Regions from separate parts of the Homo sapiens genome. Here all the other regions are linked to region 3. Evidence: fine-mapped expression QTL. A gene starts in region 3. Each other region holds a variant in brackets. All regions are shown on one strand. Distances are between the middles of the regions.

Evidence for each region. PIP is the estimated chance that this variant, and not a neighbour inherited with it, causes the effect.
Region 1: its variant is the best candidate, but not a certain one, in a credible set for the expression of JAK2 in whole blood (TOPMed, PIP 0.86).
Region 2: its variant is the best candidate, but not a certain one, in a credible set for the expression of JAK2 in whole blood (TOPMed, PIP 0.68).

Annotation. Positions count from the first base shown.
Region 1 is chr9:4,936,723-4,942,348 of GRCh38, reverse strand. No RefSeq gene overlaps it. Among named protein-coding and RNA genes, the nearest start is that of JAK2, 46 kb to the left of the region's middle. The variant A/C (reference allele first, on the strand shown) is at 2,495.
Region 2 is chr9:5,076,717-5,081,716 of GRCh38, reverse strand. It overlaps JAK2 (Janus kinase 2), which reads right to left. Exons shown (of 25, transcript NM_004972.4): 15 at 4,137-4,264; 16 at 3,273-3,411; 17 at 1,337-1,488; 18 at 1,034-1,184. It also overlaps a transcript of INSL6 not described here. Among named protein-coding and RNA genes, the nearest start is that of JAK2, 94 kb to the right of the region's middle. The variant G/C (reference allele first, on the strand shown) is at 2,493.
Region 3 is chr9:4,982,398-4,988,023 of GRCh38, reverse strand. It overlaps JAK2 (Janus kinase 2), which reads right to left and starts at 2,752. Exons shown (of 25, transcript NM_004972.4): 1 at 2,394-2,752; 2 at 2,002-2,084. RefSeq lists enhancers at 1,950-1,999, 2,800-2,939, 2,868-3,701 and silencers at 2,330-2,659, 3,050-3,129, 3,170-3,219, 4,670-4,799.

The sequences.
Region 1 (5,626 bases), 46 kb after region 3:
GTAATCCCAGCACTTTGAGAGGCCAAGGCGGGTGGATCACTTGAGGTCAAGAGTTCAAGACCAGCCTGGCCAACATGGTGAAACCCCATCTCTACTAAAAATACAAAAAATAAAAATAAAAAAAATAGTTAGGTGTAGTGGCACACACCTGTAGTCCCAGCTACTAGGGAGGCTGAGGCGCAAGAATTTCTTGAACCCCAGAGGCAGAAGTTGGAGTGAACCAAGATCGCACCACTGCACTCCAGCCTGGGTGACCAAGCGAGACTCGGTCCCCAAGAATAAACAACAACAAAAAAATCCACTTACAACTAGACCAGTTTCTACTTGGCTAAACACCCAGGATAGTCAAAGCTGGACCAGTTTCTACTTGGCTAAACACCCAGGATGTTTAGCTGTCCTTAAAATATATTGATACTGCATATTCTTTAAAAGAAATATATGGTAACAACTATTTTATTAAGTTTTCATTAGTCTAATCGAAAAATAGGATATTTTTCACACATGGAGATAATCCTACCTATTCTGCAAGTCAGTAGGTATTTCTTTCCAATTATTTAAATTAATCTGTTTGTACATTGTCCCTATGGTACATTAGATCATTGCTCTCAATTCTTTACCCCCTCCTTCTGTCAGGTGAACTTCTAATGGGAGTTATTTCCCTCTCTCATTGATGTTGGGCATAATTACATATGTGATTTGGTTTGATCAATTAAATGATAGCACACATGAGCATAGGCCTTAAGTAGTTTGACTTGGCCTCTTTTTTTTTTTTTTTTTTTTTTTTTTTAGACAGGGTCTTACTCTGTCACCCAGACTGGAGTGCAGTGGCACAATCTCGGCTCACTGCAGTCTCTGCCTCTTGGGTTCAAGCAATTCTCCTGACTTGGCCTCTTGCCTTTCATAATCCACCAGGAGAAGAATATGCCTCAGATAGCTAATGGGATTTGGGAACATGTGAAGCAGGCCTGATCCCAACTTGAGGCTTTGATATAAGCCCAGCTGTCCTGCAAAAGAAGCAGAGCATCCCAGATCATCCACAGGCTCATGAACAAGGAAAATAAAGGCTTATTTTTATGAGCCACTGAGTTTTGGAGCTGTTTATTACTCAGCATTGTAACAATAGCTGACTAATATATCCCATATTTCGTGTTCAGTGACATATATATCTGTGAAAATTGATTGATAGAATCATATCCTTATATTAACTCTCAGTCCCGCAATATGCAATGACAAGGAGCTTTGAAGACTCAAATAATCAAGTACAACCCAATGACCAGTGTTTTTTGCTAATATCAATGGGGACCCCAGACAAATAATAAACACTAGATAATATTCCATAATGAAGTTGGAGAAGAAGTAAATAGAGTACAAGAATCAACAAAAATGTAAGAAAATCCTAAAACCGTAAGAGCCTTATAAAAATAGCTGGAGTGGGCAAGAATGTGTGAGTTTAACCAAGCCATCTGCCTTCTGCTCCGCTGGCAAACAATTCAGTTATACAGTACAGCTCTTGATTAAATATAAAAACACTTCTCCCACCCTTTTTCTGTCATAATAATAATTTTGGTGCATTTCTTTGTATACATTGTTTTTTATATACTGCAAGAATTTTTCATGTGGCTAAAAACTACTGAGTCTCAATATTTTTCTGATTCGCTACCATTGACTTACCTAAGATATTTCCACTAGGACAATATAGATTACATATAATGTTTTTTTCATAATCGTTATTTGAAATGGCTGTATAATCTTCCATTGAGTGGATGCACCATAATCTAGTTAAACTATTTCCTGTTGTTAGATTTTAGGCTGTGACTAATTTTTCACTATTATGAATAATTTTCCTGTGAGAAGTGCAAACCGTAGGCATATTTTTTTAATCTCTGGATTATTTCCTTAGTACAAATACCCAGGAGATTCTACTAGGTGAAAGGATGAGAATATTTTAAAATCTCCTGATAGCCAGGTGCAGTGGCTTGCACCTGTCATTCTACTTACTTGGGAGACTGAAGCAAAAGGATCCCTTGAGCTCAGGAGTTCAAGAACAGCTTGGGCGACATAGCAAGACCCTGCCTCTAAAAATTACTAAATAAATAAAACTAAAAGATCTCAATACATATAGCTAAATCAATTTCTAAAAGACGTTTCTAATTCTACTGGTAATGTACTATAGTACTAACAAACATTAAATATTATTATAAATGTTGCTATGCTTTGTAGCCAAATGAATGGAAGGGGTATCTTATCACTTTTAAAATTAAAAGTGAGGTGGAACATTTTTCCATGTTTGTTAACTAGATGATCTCTTCTTCTCAATATCTATTTACTTTATTATACCACGAAGGACTTGAAGAGCTTTCAAGTAGTGTTTGTCAGTAAGAAAACATACTCTTTTTGTTTCTTTTTTATGTAGGTGTTTTGTGTGGGTCACTCCATGGATTCATAGGTGAATCTATTCCCTCAAAATGAATCTATTGGGAACATTCTTTAAAAA[A/C]AAACAAACAAACAAAAGTAACAGAGCAATAGCAAGATCTTTCTGAAAAAGAAATTGCTGGCACATTTTACCAGCATTTACCTTGATCCAAATCATTGAGTTTAGAGAGAGATCCAGTCAATTTAGCAAATCAGCCAAAAGCAACAGTATATGACAGATCAAATTCCATTGGAACAAATACCACACAGACTGGGCAATTCCAGGGGCAGATATAAGACAAATGAGGGGAAGTTGAAGGGAGATAAGATTGTTGGCTGATAGAAAGGAATTTCTAACAACTAACTCGAGCCCCAAATAGACAACAAAGGAGCAACAAAGATGCAAAGATGGTCAGGAGGAGTTTGGAGGATTCATGCAGGAGGGTGTGGGAGGCCTTGTGGTGAGTAGACTGGATAGGACCCCTAAAGTCCCTTCCAACTCTATTTTCCTTAGAGTGGCCCTTGGACCTGAACTTCCTGGTCCTGGGAATAGGAGATTGCTTTGTACAGGACAGAAAAAGAGGAAGAACCTGTCCCTCTCTTCTTGAGGGTGGGGCTGACCATAGTCAGAATTTTGAAATAGAGTTTATCTTTGGCATCTTCTCACTTCCCTTTCTGTACTTTTGCTTACCAGCTGCCCAGTATTCCGATGGGGGTGTTAGCCTCTAAGCAGTGCCACTCCTGCATTACTTCTTTCTCTTTAACCACTTCAAAACTCCCATTCTCTTAACACAGCTAACCTCAGCTAGCTGTTGAAAGGAAAGCAATCTGTTTGAACCATTTCACTCTAAAGCATGACCGACTGATAGTATCATGATCTTCCCAAACAGATACGAATTTTCAAAACAAGATGTTTCTAAAGCCAATGGCATCTTTAACAACATGTGGTAAATTAAACCCCACTTAATAACCCTTCTGAAGTTCAAGTTCCAGCTACATTAATTACTGTCCCTCAGTATTGAGGAAATTACTAGGCCATCCTGTGTTTCAATATTCTTATCAGAAAATGAGGAAGAAATACAACTAAACCATATAATTTATATAAGCTGCCTGGCATAATGCTTGACACATGGGTCTTATTGTTAGTTATTATTGTCCCCTTTGCAGTCATCCATGCAGAGGTGTAATCATGTATTTCTTACTCTCATAACGCATATTCCTTGGGCTGGGAGGTGAGTCTCCAAGTCAGAGTCTGGGCAGCTGACATCCTTGTTGTGTAAAAGGAGGATTTCCTCAAGTTCAGCAGCCTCTATTATCCTTTTCTATCACATTATTTCCTGCCATTACATTTTTTTCCATTCTCTTTACTTTGTGTTTTATTTGTTTGTTTGTTTGTTTGTTTGTTTGTTTGATGGTTGAATTAGGAAGTTAAATTTTGATTTGAAAGTTTGGTTAATTTATTCTCCATGTCTCTTCTTTTCTGATATGGACATTGAAAGCTATAGATTTCCCTCTGAACAACATGTTGACCATACCCCACAGATTTTGTAGAGTAATGCTTCTGTGCCCATTCATATTTATGTGATTTATAATTTCCATTTGATTTTGTCCTTAGCCCAAGAGTTATTTCATTATTGATTTGTAATTCATAAACAGTCTTATTATCTCTATATTCTTATAATAAATAAATGTAGCACTTTAGGCGTTAGAGGGCCAGCAAGCATTTGGTGGCTACACAGCCTCTTCTCTTCATCTTTAGAAATGATGGATCTCAAAAATTTCCATTAAGTACAGGTATGCTTTAAATGAAAATATGCTTCATTAAACATATTTTCAAAATAATGCAGTATTGTGCTTTCAGTAAACCACAGCAATAGCTATCCATTTAAATCATATCCTTCAACAACAAACCAACTTTGTTCTGTTAACATGGTGAAAAACGATAAAACCTATAATTAAAATAAAAGTATGCTAAGCCAGAAAAATAAAAATTGTGTGTGTGTGTGTGCACGTGTGTGTGTAAGAGAGAGAGAGAATGGGTGAGAGAGATTTATCTTCAACAATAAGCTAAAATTTGGCAATGTCTTATTAGTGGTTTCAGCCAAGGAAATCTAATTATGTAACTGTTGTTATTTTTATAGCCACATTTGTGAGTTCTCTAATGATTTTAAGATTGCCTTATCTTAATGAGAAAGCAGAACTGACATCCTCCCAAACTGGGCTAGTTGTTTACTTATTTGAAGATTTATCTTTTCCCTACAAGTACTAGAGTCCAAGTTATCAGCACGTTAATGTGACAGTTAAGAGGCCATACTCCACTGTATATTTGGATTGTATGGGGTGACCAGTGCTCTGGTTTGCCCAGGACTGGGGGTTTCCCAAGATATGGAACTTTCCATGCTAACATGGGGACAGTCCCAGACAAACAGACACTGTTGTTCACTCTACTTATTTCCCAACAAGTCAGAGCATTGTCCAGGCCCATCTTAACAAGCAGGTACACCAAGCTAACTATCATTGACTTTGTATGATTCAAGGACTACCAGGAAGACCATTCTGTCCCCCAAATTACCCACAGACTCTAATAACACTATCCTCTTTTCCAGCCGGAAACCTCTACCATTAGAGTCATTCCTTCAGTTTTCTTTTTACCTAAAATTACATATCAAAGACCTAGGCATTATCTTCAAAAGGCCTTTATTACAAAGCCCAAATCTGGAAAATAAGACAGTTTCGGACTCTGACATTTACTACATCCCAGGTACATTGGACTACTAAGATATAAGACATTTTTCTACCCATAGGACCATCTGATACAGGTGGGAGGGAGATGTGTGGTAAGTACTGTAGAGCAGCAGACATAAAGTGTTACAGGAGTGGGAAGGGGGATCCCTGGGTGATGGTAGCAGAGGGGAAGTCAGGGGTTTCAGGAGAGATGTGGTGAATGCAGAACTTAGGCCCACAAGATCTCATGCTCCAAAAATAGGCTGAGGGAGAAAGCCATGTCCAAAAAGCAAAATGTCCCTACTTTACCAAACTCTACTTTAAAACTGAGTTTTGAACTCAGAAATATCTTCTTTGACCATTAAAAAATCCTAATGTGAATGTTGGAAGAAAGATATGTGTGTGTTTAAATATATATTACATATTAACTAAATATATATTATATATTTAATTAAAATTAAAGTAAACTTAATAGTGTAAATCACTTATG
Region 2 (5,000 bases), 94 kb before region 3:
ATAAAGAATATTATCACCTTAAATTAGCAAATAACATTCTCTGGACTAAACTGATATACATTCAAGTTGACCAAAATAATCGTGAGTTAAAAATACTAAATGATACAGGGAAACTCAAATAGTTTCAATTATATTAATGGGAGCCTTTAATCATTACCCATAATCTGACAGGCCTTCAAGAGAGACTTTGCAAAGGATAAAATTTTGTTTTCCAAAATAAGAAGTTTTAGTATTCATAAAGTAAGGTAATATACTGATACTTATTGTGAGAAAGGTGAGTAGTACTGGGGTAGAAAGCACCTATAGGTCAAACACATGCATTTCAGCTCAGTATTTTGAAAAAGGAGAGAACAAAGCAAAACAAATACAGCTCATGTTTAGAGAATCAATCAATTATAAAATATGAGAAATGTTAAAGAGAATTGTTTTTTAAAAGTCAATTTAAGCAAAAAAAAAATACTATAATTTACAACTCACTAAATGGAAAACTAAAATTAGGTTACTGAAAGAAAAGGTCTTTTTGGCTGGGAGCGGTGGCTCAAGCCTGTAATCCCAGCACTTTGGGAGGCCGAGGCGGGCGGATCACAAGATCAGGAGATCGAGACCATCCTGGCTAACACGGTGAAACCCCGTCTCTACTAAAAATACAAAAAATTAGCCGGGTGTGGTGGCGGGCGCCTGTAGTCCCAGCTACTCAGGAGGCTGAGGCAGGAGAATGGCGTGAACCTTGGAGGTGGAGCTTGCAGTGAGCCGAGATCGCGCCACTGCACTCCAGCCTGGGCGACAGAGTAAGACTCCATCTCAAAAAAAAAAAAAAAAAAAAAGAAAAGGTCTTTTTATAAAAATGAAAATAATTCTCAGTCAAGGAGATTAGAATATGTATAAAGCATGAAAAGCCATATGAACATAAGAAATTAAGAGGGCCCAAATGACATCAAGAAAATGTTTTAAAGGAATTAAAAATTAGTAATGATTCATTAAATACAATAAAGATAGAAAGCTGGAAAATCAATAAGATCATTCAAATACATACCTGGAGTAAACAAACTGTTAAGATCTCGTATGATGGCTCTGAAAGAAGGCCTGAAATCTGGTTCATAATCCATACAATTATTTATAAGGTTTGCTAATTCTGCCCACTTTGGTGCAGGAAGCTGATGCCTATCTTCATAAAATTGTAGCTTCTATAATTAAAGAACCACAAACTGAGAATAAATTGTGTAATGCCACACCAACCTTCTTTTTAAAATTAGATGGGCTAAAAAATACAAATCATGTGAAAGAAATATGAAAGTTCAGAGATAGAGTAATTCTAACTTAGTCTATATAAACTTACTCTTTGAGAATCCAGAGCACTTAGAGGTTTATCTCCTCCACTGCAGATTTCCCACAAAGTGGTACCAAAACTCCATTTGTCTGTTGCCAAATTTAAATTTTTAGGATTTTCAATGCATTCAGGTGGTACCCATGGTATTCTCTCCTGAAGAACTTTTAAATGATACGAACAGAGTAGGGTTAAATAATTCACAAGTAAACCAATCTTTTATATGTAAATAGCTTTAAAGTTCAAATCATTTGAATAATCAGGCCTATTTTCTTTATTTTGGAGGGGTTGGATGTGCACATGCACATGACTGCATAAGCTTAAGAACCAGAAGGGACCTTCAAGATCATCTAATTCAATATTTCATCTTTAACAATGACAACATGGAGACATATGATTGAGTAATCTGCCCAAAGCCACACAATTTGTTAGCAGCAGAGACAGAATTAGAATCCTGTACAGTGAGTTCTGAATCAACTAATCTTTCCATTAAACCATAGTGTCTCAACTGGCATACCATTTTCTCAACCTCTTTCCATTAGTTTTACCTTCAAAAAAAAAAAATTTTTTTTTTGAGACAGGGTGTCACTGTGTCACTCAGGCTAGAGTGCAATGGCACGATTGCAGCTCACTATGCTTTGACCTCTTGGGCTTAAGTGATCCACCCAAGCGCTTTAGGAAGCAATCAGCCTCCCAAAGCATTGGAATTACAGGCATGAGCCACTGCACCTGGCCAAATCTTTTTTTTTTATATAGTTTATCCTAAAATTGCCCCATGATACTTTTTGGTATTTCTTCATAATGCGTAAGTAGTAAAGGTAATGTTACATCATTCAGAGATGTTCTAATGATTTAATAGCCATGGCAATTCCCACTTGCAGATAAAAAAAAAAACCCAAGGACCAACAAGCATTTATGGCAGATGGAAGGCTAAATTGCACCAAAATATTCTAGATATATGGAATTGATATAGGTGGGCTCTGCTCAAATCACGGAATTTCTCAAGTAAAGTTTCTGTGGTCTTTGATTCCACCAGAAGGACTGTATTCAAGAAAGGAAGAAGCAATATAACCCTACTTTCTGGTATTCTGACATAGACAGACAGACAAATAGATTGATTGACAAATACCTTCACCATATGAATACATTTTTTTCCATCTTCACTTCC[G/C]ATTCCAAAGGATAAAATTTTCCAGGATACCAGATGTAAGACCCTGTAAGAATTTTCTGCCATACTCCCTACTCCTGTACTACTGCCCAGTTATCACTGTCTTCACTGTCAGATAAGTCATTAAGTTTAAGTACTATTAGCTTAAATAGGACACATCAGTGCACAAAAATTGATCAATTTAGAATCTAAATTTAGAACATCCAATTAGAGAAATTATCTAAGATAACAAAATTCAGTTATAATTATCTAGACCCAAAAAACCCCTCTCAACTATCTGACTGAAATTTGTATTTTTAACCCACTGTGTTAAGTAGTAAAGATGAACAAACACAAATCAAAGTTTTTTTAAGGTTTTAAAAAGTCAGAATTAGCTGGATAATTAAACTAATTTCTTCACAGAGGATAGAAAAAAATCCTAAAATCTCAGGCTAAATTTTTATTTAGTGACGAGAAGAAAAGAATATTTAGAAAATTTACTTGTGGCTCAAGGAATATTACAAAACTTCATACTAAAAATGGATAAAATCCTATCCTTCATACATAATTAGAGATTAAAACTGTTTTTAAAAAATCACCTCACAGTCCATGGTTATATGCTTATAAGAAAGAAAAATAGAGACTAAGATTTAACTAACAATTTAAATTGCTAAAAGTGATAATTTTATTATTAATCAGGAACATACAAATTAAATGGAATTCAAGGAAAATTAACAACATGCCCTTTACACCACTGCCCAAGTAAAGCTTAGTAACATTATATATAATCCTTCTAGAACTTACTGTCCTTTGGCAAAACTGTAATACTAATGCCAGGATCACTAAGTTTGATGAAAGGAGGATTTCCTGTCTTCCTGTCTTCTTCTCTGATAAGCAGAATATTTTTGGCACATACATTCCCATGAATAAGGGTGTTTTCTTCCTATTAGAGTTAAACGCACATATATTCAAATATCAGTCCACAAGTACTGGAGCATTTAGTATGTTCAAGCCCCCAAAACAGATTTAAAGAAGAAAAATACATGATAGTATAATAATTTGGAGGCATGCATTGAGAAAAAAGGAAATTTATGACTCCTATGCTTCCTGTTTTACATTTTAAATAACACAATAATCTATGCTTGTGATGAAATGAATAAATTAAAACTACCAATGCCATTTCACATGAGTTCTAAGGCTGACATGGTTTGTGTTTCTGGATGGGAGCTGACATTAAGAAATACTACTTCAGTTCTGCAGCAGGACATAGGTGCACCCTGAGGGGTCTGATGACTGGCAGTCCCCCTGGTATTCTTCTCTGTCAACACCGCTTTCTCATGGACCATAATGTACAATGGCCCAAAAATACAGAAGCACATACTTCTGCATAATTTTTGGTTGAATTTTCTAAATCCAAAAGACACAACATACAGATTGTCTATTAGTAGTTCTAAGATATTGATGGGATGACAAAACTTTTTTTTCAAAAGTGATTTTACATACATAAACATATGCCTAAAGTAATCTCTTTTTATCACCTAACACAGACTATTTTACATGAATTGGCATCCAATTACAGATTTATTTTTTGTTTCCAGGTAAAGATAATTTGTATATTGTTTTATAAAATAAAATAGTATCTTTTGATAAAAAGGTTGTACTACTTACTAGAAAATGCATGGCCCATGCCAACTGTTTAGCAACTTCAAGTTTCCATAATATATTTATACAATTTTTATTCTTTTTCAGATATGTATCTAGTGATCCAAATTTTACAAACTCCTGAACCAGAATATCTGCATTAAAATATAAGTAATAATAATAAGGCTTAAGTATAAATATAATTAAATATATGTAATTTAAATCTTTATACTTACATGTGACCATTATAGGTAAAGAAATTAAATTGGCAAAACTCACAACTTTAAAGAAAACTTAATGGATACACAGCATTATATTTTTGGTTTTTAGTTTACTTACAACAGCAAGAGTAGGAGTCTAAACAATTATATATTATTATATATAACATAAATGTATAATATATAATATACCAGCACACCTTTATATATTAGTACTGAATTATGGCTGGTTTTTAAAAATAAATGAAAATTTCTCAATTTCTCTTCCACATAACTTTTTAGACATTCAAACCTTCCTGAAGTTCTTCTACACACAAAAATTACTAACAATTGTCTATAGTACTATAGACATAAAGGAGAATTTGAGTTCTAGCTCCATTTAATCTTTTAATTCTGCAAAAAATACAGAAATGTTTTGCGCTGCTTTATCTTTAAAACTTTTTTAAAAAAATATATAAAACATATTTTGCCAGAAAAACAAGTGTTGGCTTCCAAAAACAATCCTGGATTCCTTCATGGTCCACAGGAGCCTCTCAGATACCTCCATATAACAGGTTCCAAACCACTGCTTTTGAGAAGATTATCAATTTTCAAAGATATGAAAAAATGTCATACAAGTGTAGATGTGTATTTAATCTGCATTACTAGTGGAAAATAGGGAATTATATAAACA
Region 3 (5,626 bases):
AGGCTGTAATACTCCCTCACCAGTTTAAGACCTTGAAGTCCTTTATCTCTTTATACTAGAAAGGAGGAAACACGAGTTACAGGCAGATCACCTTATGCAGTCATTCTGCCCTTCTCTGAATCTCCTTTGCCTCCCAGCCGTGATAGTAGCCAAGACTTTTATGACAGCCAGGCAGTTTACCACTTTGCATGTGTCTTACTCACTTCTCACAACAATCTTATAAGAAAGTGAAGCTAAAAGAGTCGTAAATAATATAACTCTTTTTTTCTTTCTTTTTTTTTTTTTTTTTAGACAGAGTCTTGCTGTGTTGCCCAGCCTGGAGTGCAGTGGTGAGATCTCGGCTCACTGCAACCACCACTTCCCAGGTTCAAGCAATTCTCCTGCCTCACCCTCCCGAGTAGCTGGGATTACAGGTGTGCACCACCACGCCCGGCTAATTTTTGTATTTTTAGTAGAGATGGGGTTTCACCATGTTGGCCAGGCTGGTCTCAAGCTCCTCACCTCAAGTGATCCTCCTTCCTCAGCCTCCCAAAGTGCTGGGATTACAGGCGTGAGCCACCATGACCAGCCGTAAATAATGCAACTCTTAAGTGGCAAGAACACCAGGATTCAAATCCAGATCTCACTCCAAAGCCAATGCACTTTCCTATTCTGCCTCAAAAGCATCCCACCTTTCAGTAATAGCCAGGTGAAAGAGAAACAATGTCATATTCCCTTCCCATATCTGAGACACCTGTCTCAAATCACCAAAGGCACACACACACAAAATTCCCTAATGAGTCCCTAAAACTGCTATAAATTGCAAATACAGGATATTCAGTTAGAGCAAAAACAAGCATGGTGTGCTCTTCTGGCCAGCAAGTACTGCAGCTTTCCTATTCAGGTAAATACATGTACTATTAAGGCAAGTGCTGGATACATCCAGTCTGTACATACGTTACACACCAACAGACAAATGCATGTACAAGCAAATAATTCTCACACTTAAAGTGGTATAAGGTGAGGCGGATGGGGGAAGGGAGGCCAAAAATTGATTATTCATCTTCAAATGTTCTGGGTGTTATATCAAAATACAAGCTGATCATCCCTTATCTGAAAAGCTGCAAAATCTGAAACATTTTGAGCACCAACATGATGCTACAAGGGGAAAATTCCCCGCATAGGTACTTAATACAAACTTTGTTTCATGCACAGACGTATTAAAAATATTGCAAATGACTTAGTGGCTGTGTGAATAAGGTCTATATGAAACAAACGAATTTCGTATTTACACTTGGGTCCCATCCTCAAGATGTCTGATTTTGTATATGCAAACATTCCAAAATTTTTAAAAAAAATCCAAAACACTTTTGGTCCCAAGCATTCTGGAGAAGGGATACAAAATCTTTATTTGCAGTAGCCCAACAACTCACTGTACAAACTTATTATGAAACCAAAAGCAATCATTTCCCTTATTCCCACTTCCAGTTTCCTTCTCCATACTCAGCCGCTCCTACCCTTTCATTCAGAGAAATGGAGTTTCTCCTAACAGATTAGTAATTACTGGAAAACAAACTGGGTAAATTCAACCGACACAGCAAGCTTAGGCAGATAAAACCATGAGGAAACATTCAATGTGGTAGCAGAAACCCCAGCAAGAATAGCTAACGTGTTCTCCCAAAAGCTATCTCTTATTGCTTGGAAATACTCCTCTTTAAAGGATTAAGAATCTCTGGCTGCTTAAGAAGAAAGGGTAATGGACAACGTTTTTCGTTTCTCTGCAAAGTCACGTTATGTGTAAAGCCAACAAAAAAATGTTTCTTAAAGGATCCAAGACGAACAACAAAACACCCCAAAATTACTCTCCCAGATCAACATTAAAAGTTTAGCACTGACATTTTCAGAAGAGTAAGCAACAATGAGCCCTGCCTCTCTTCACACGCTTCCAACCTTCCCTACGCACGCACTCCCAGCTCCAGACACCTTCGCCTTTACTGCAGCGATAAAGGACAGCACACCCACCGTCGCGGGAGGAGGAGGAAGAGCCTCTTTTTCTGCAGAAGAGAAACAGTTCACATCTTGTTCCTGTTGCCTGCTTCTGAAACCTAAAAACAGAAGCAGCAGTTAACTACTACCACATAAATCCAGGGGAAACAAATGCTTTTTCTAGGCTGTTTAAGTGTCTAGAAAATTTTAAAAAGGAATAAGGAGGCGGGAGCGAGGGAATTATAAGACACAAATGGAAGCAAATATCACCAGCAAGACTCGTTCTAGGTGTCGTCTTAAAGAGGAAGATTTTTCTGGCTCAGAAGTTTGCTGCCACTAGCAGGGGGCAGGCGGGACCAAAAGGTAGGAAGGGGGTGGAGAGACAGCTGCTGCCCCCCACCCAGAAGCCAGGCAGAGATAACACCCACCGGCTACACAGATCGGGCGACCAGAGCGCGCCCTCGAGCCCGCAGGGGCGGCTCCTACCCGGCGGGTCAAGGTCTGCGAAGCCCCGGGACGGGCACGGCTCTGAACGACCTCCAGGCTGGGCCCTCGGGGGCCCTCCAGTGTGGGCTCAGCTCCCACTCACATCCCTCGGCAGCGAGGACCAGGCCTCTCCCTGCGCCGCAGCAGCCCTCAGCCCCGACGCGCGCCGCAAGCCCGGGCCGAGGGGCCCGACCGGCCGAGAAGCCGAAGTGGCGACGCGAACACCCAAGCGAGCCGGGCGCCGGCCCAGCCTGTCAGCGCCGAGGGAGGCCGTTAGCGGCGTCCGCTGCTGCCCCCTTCTGCTCCTCTTCCTCTCTCCTTCCTGCAGCCCCACACCACTCCCACTTCGGGCAGCCGGGAAGCCCGTCACAGTTGTCTCCACCCTCTCCGGGGCCACACCGTCTTCTCAACGCCGCGGGCGACACTGGCTTCGCCGCCCTGCTAGCTTCGAACTCAGCCTCCCGGTTGGCCTGCAGTCTCCCCGAATGGCAGGAGACCGGGCCGGATAGAGGCTGGGGGAGAGCCGGACGCGCGTCCTGCAGTGCGCGTGCGCCGCTCGGTGCTGGTCGCGGGACCGGCAGGCGCGGGCCACGCAGGGCAGCTGCCTCTCGGGAAGCCGGCGAGCGCGCGTGGAGATTCCTGGGACGGCCCCTGGGCGTGAGCGCGCAAGGAAGTTAAGGCGGCGGCGCCTCGCGAAACGCTGGTGCCCGGCTGGAGCTAGGCGCCAGCGCTGGGCCCGGCCCTCACTAGATGGGCGGGTGTGTGTGTGGCCGCCGCCCTCCAGGGAAGCGGCCGGGAGTGACTCACCCTGGCTGGCTCCCCAGCGCGCAGCCTGCACTGGAGGAGGCCGGGCTGCCTCCGCGCGGAGACTCCCCTCCCGCACACTTCTCCGCTTTCGGCTTTTCCTTCCACCTCCCGGGTACAGCAGACCCGTCCTTCCCCAGTCCAGGCTGCTAGGCCGAGGGGAAGTGGCGCCGGGGGCCGGGGACAACGCGCTCACACACGCTGTTTCGTGGCAATGCGCCCTCGAGAGCCTGACTCCCATCAGCCACCTTGGCTGGAAAGGGGTGAGGGTGGGATGAAGCGCCCAGCCGCCTGCGGGTTGGCAACAAGGCCTAGCGAATGTTTCTCCTAGAGGAGAAACAACTTTACCGGCGTGGCCTGGTGTAGCCCGGGAGAGGGTGGAGACAACGGCTGTGACGGGCTTCCCGGCTGCCAAAGGGCCTCATTCATTCATTCAAATATTTACTGAGTGTCTACTAGGTGCCGGGCTGTAGGTCCCCAGAGATACCAGGTGAACACGACCCCACACACTCCTTGCCCTACTGGATTGTATTCTGATGGAAGCGACAAAACAACAAACAACGCTTTAAATGCATAATGTGCGGGGTGTGTAATTGCCACTAAGAAAATGCATAGTTTTCTGCTGCCATATACATAATAACAAAGAAAAGGAGTAGAAAGTGAGGAGGGGGTGTGCTATTTTACGGTGGCCAGGAACGATTTCCTAGAATAAGTGACATTTGAGCAGAGATCTGAAGGATGAGAATGAACCAGTCCCATGACTATCTGGGAAAAGAATTTCAGGCAGAGGGACTCCTGAAGGCAAAGACCTTGAGAAGGGAAAGTGTTTGGCAAGTTCAAGGATCAGGAAAGAGGTCACTGTGGCTGGAGGACACGGAAGGAGGGGGCAGTGGTAAGAGGTGAGGCCAAAGAAGTAGCCTGGCACCAGATCGTGTAGGGATTTTTTTCAAGTATTAGCCCTCTTTCTGTCAACCTAAATGAAGTGACGCATTCATAGCTCCTGTTTCCCCATACACAACTGATGCTGCTCTTCAGGTCTGTCTTGCACTTAATGGTTTCTTTAAATAAACCTCACCAAAGCAACTCCTGCATTTCTTCTTACATAAGACCCATTGCAAAAGGTCTTTAAGCAAATGATAGCAGCATAGGAAATTACTTGAATTCACCCTGAATCTTTTAAATAATGAACTAGAGCTGTATAAGAGGGAGGGATTTACAGGAAAATTGCATTCCTACGGCTACTGCTTCATAGGTAATATATGGGCAAAGTTAGTAAGAATTTCTAATTATTAATTGTGACTCAATGGCTTAGAATATCAAGGCCGCAATTACAAACAGTGACTACCAAAAGAGTTCCTTTTTTCCTGCAAACAAAAACTGCTACTGAGGTAAAAGCTAGAACACAGACCCACATAATGAAGAAGAGCTAAAGATGAGCTTAACGTCATGGGTAAATGAAAAGCATCACAACTGTGGAAATGGAAATGTGATATTTTGTGAGGGGAAGAAAATGCTTGTTTTAGAACTCTGAAACAGTATTACTTTCATTATAAGTGATGTTTCTATATTTTGCAGTGATATACTTATGTAACTAGGCATGGTATCTCTTACTGTCCACAGCCTGTTTGCAGGGAGAAGCCATTTGAAATTGGTGAATTGCAGGGAGAAGCCATTTGGAAGTGGTGAATATTGAGGATATTTTTGTGGGGGAGCAGGTTATTTTCTTAATATTAGAGATGTGGGTATGGAAGACAAGGTGGACAAGGGGTATATTATTCATAAGCCTATAGAATTGAGAAATCTTCTGTCTCCCCACATAGAAAGATGAAGCAACTTGCCTCCTGTCATTCAGAAAGTGAAAGCCTCCCTCATCACTAAGACATGATTTTAAGTCAATGCTAACCTGGAATGTTGAGCTTTTTTCACTCTGTATTAACAGAACTTTTGAGCTCTTTATGTGATTCCTGGTAGTGGCATCACTAGAAATTTGCTACTCAAGGCAAACATTTCAGGAAATTTCCCTTATTCTTTGATAATGATGAAAAGAATTCCAAGGAATTTGACCAAGTCTTTCAAAACATTCATACAATATGAAGAAACAAGAAATATGAGCTGTAAGGTAACACATTTAGATTCAAAACTTTGTGGCAAGATCTAATGGGAAAACTTAACAGCTAGTTGTTGACTGTGGGGCTGTGTGTAGTGTCTTGAGGTTTTGTCCTTCCAGTGTTGGCCAGCATGGCAGCAGTGATTCTTGACTGCTATGCCCAAACCTTCCCCCCACCCCAACAAGACTGCCTCAGTAAGTGTGAGATGGCGCATTGGCTTCTATAACTTTTTAACATTTTTAGGTGGTTTGACATAAAGCCAC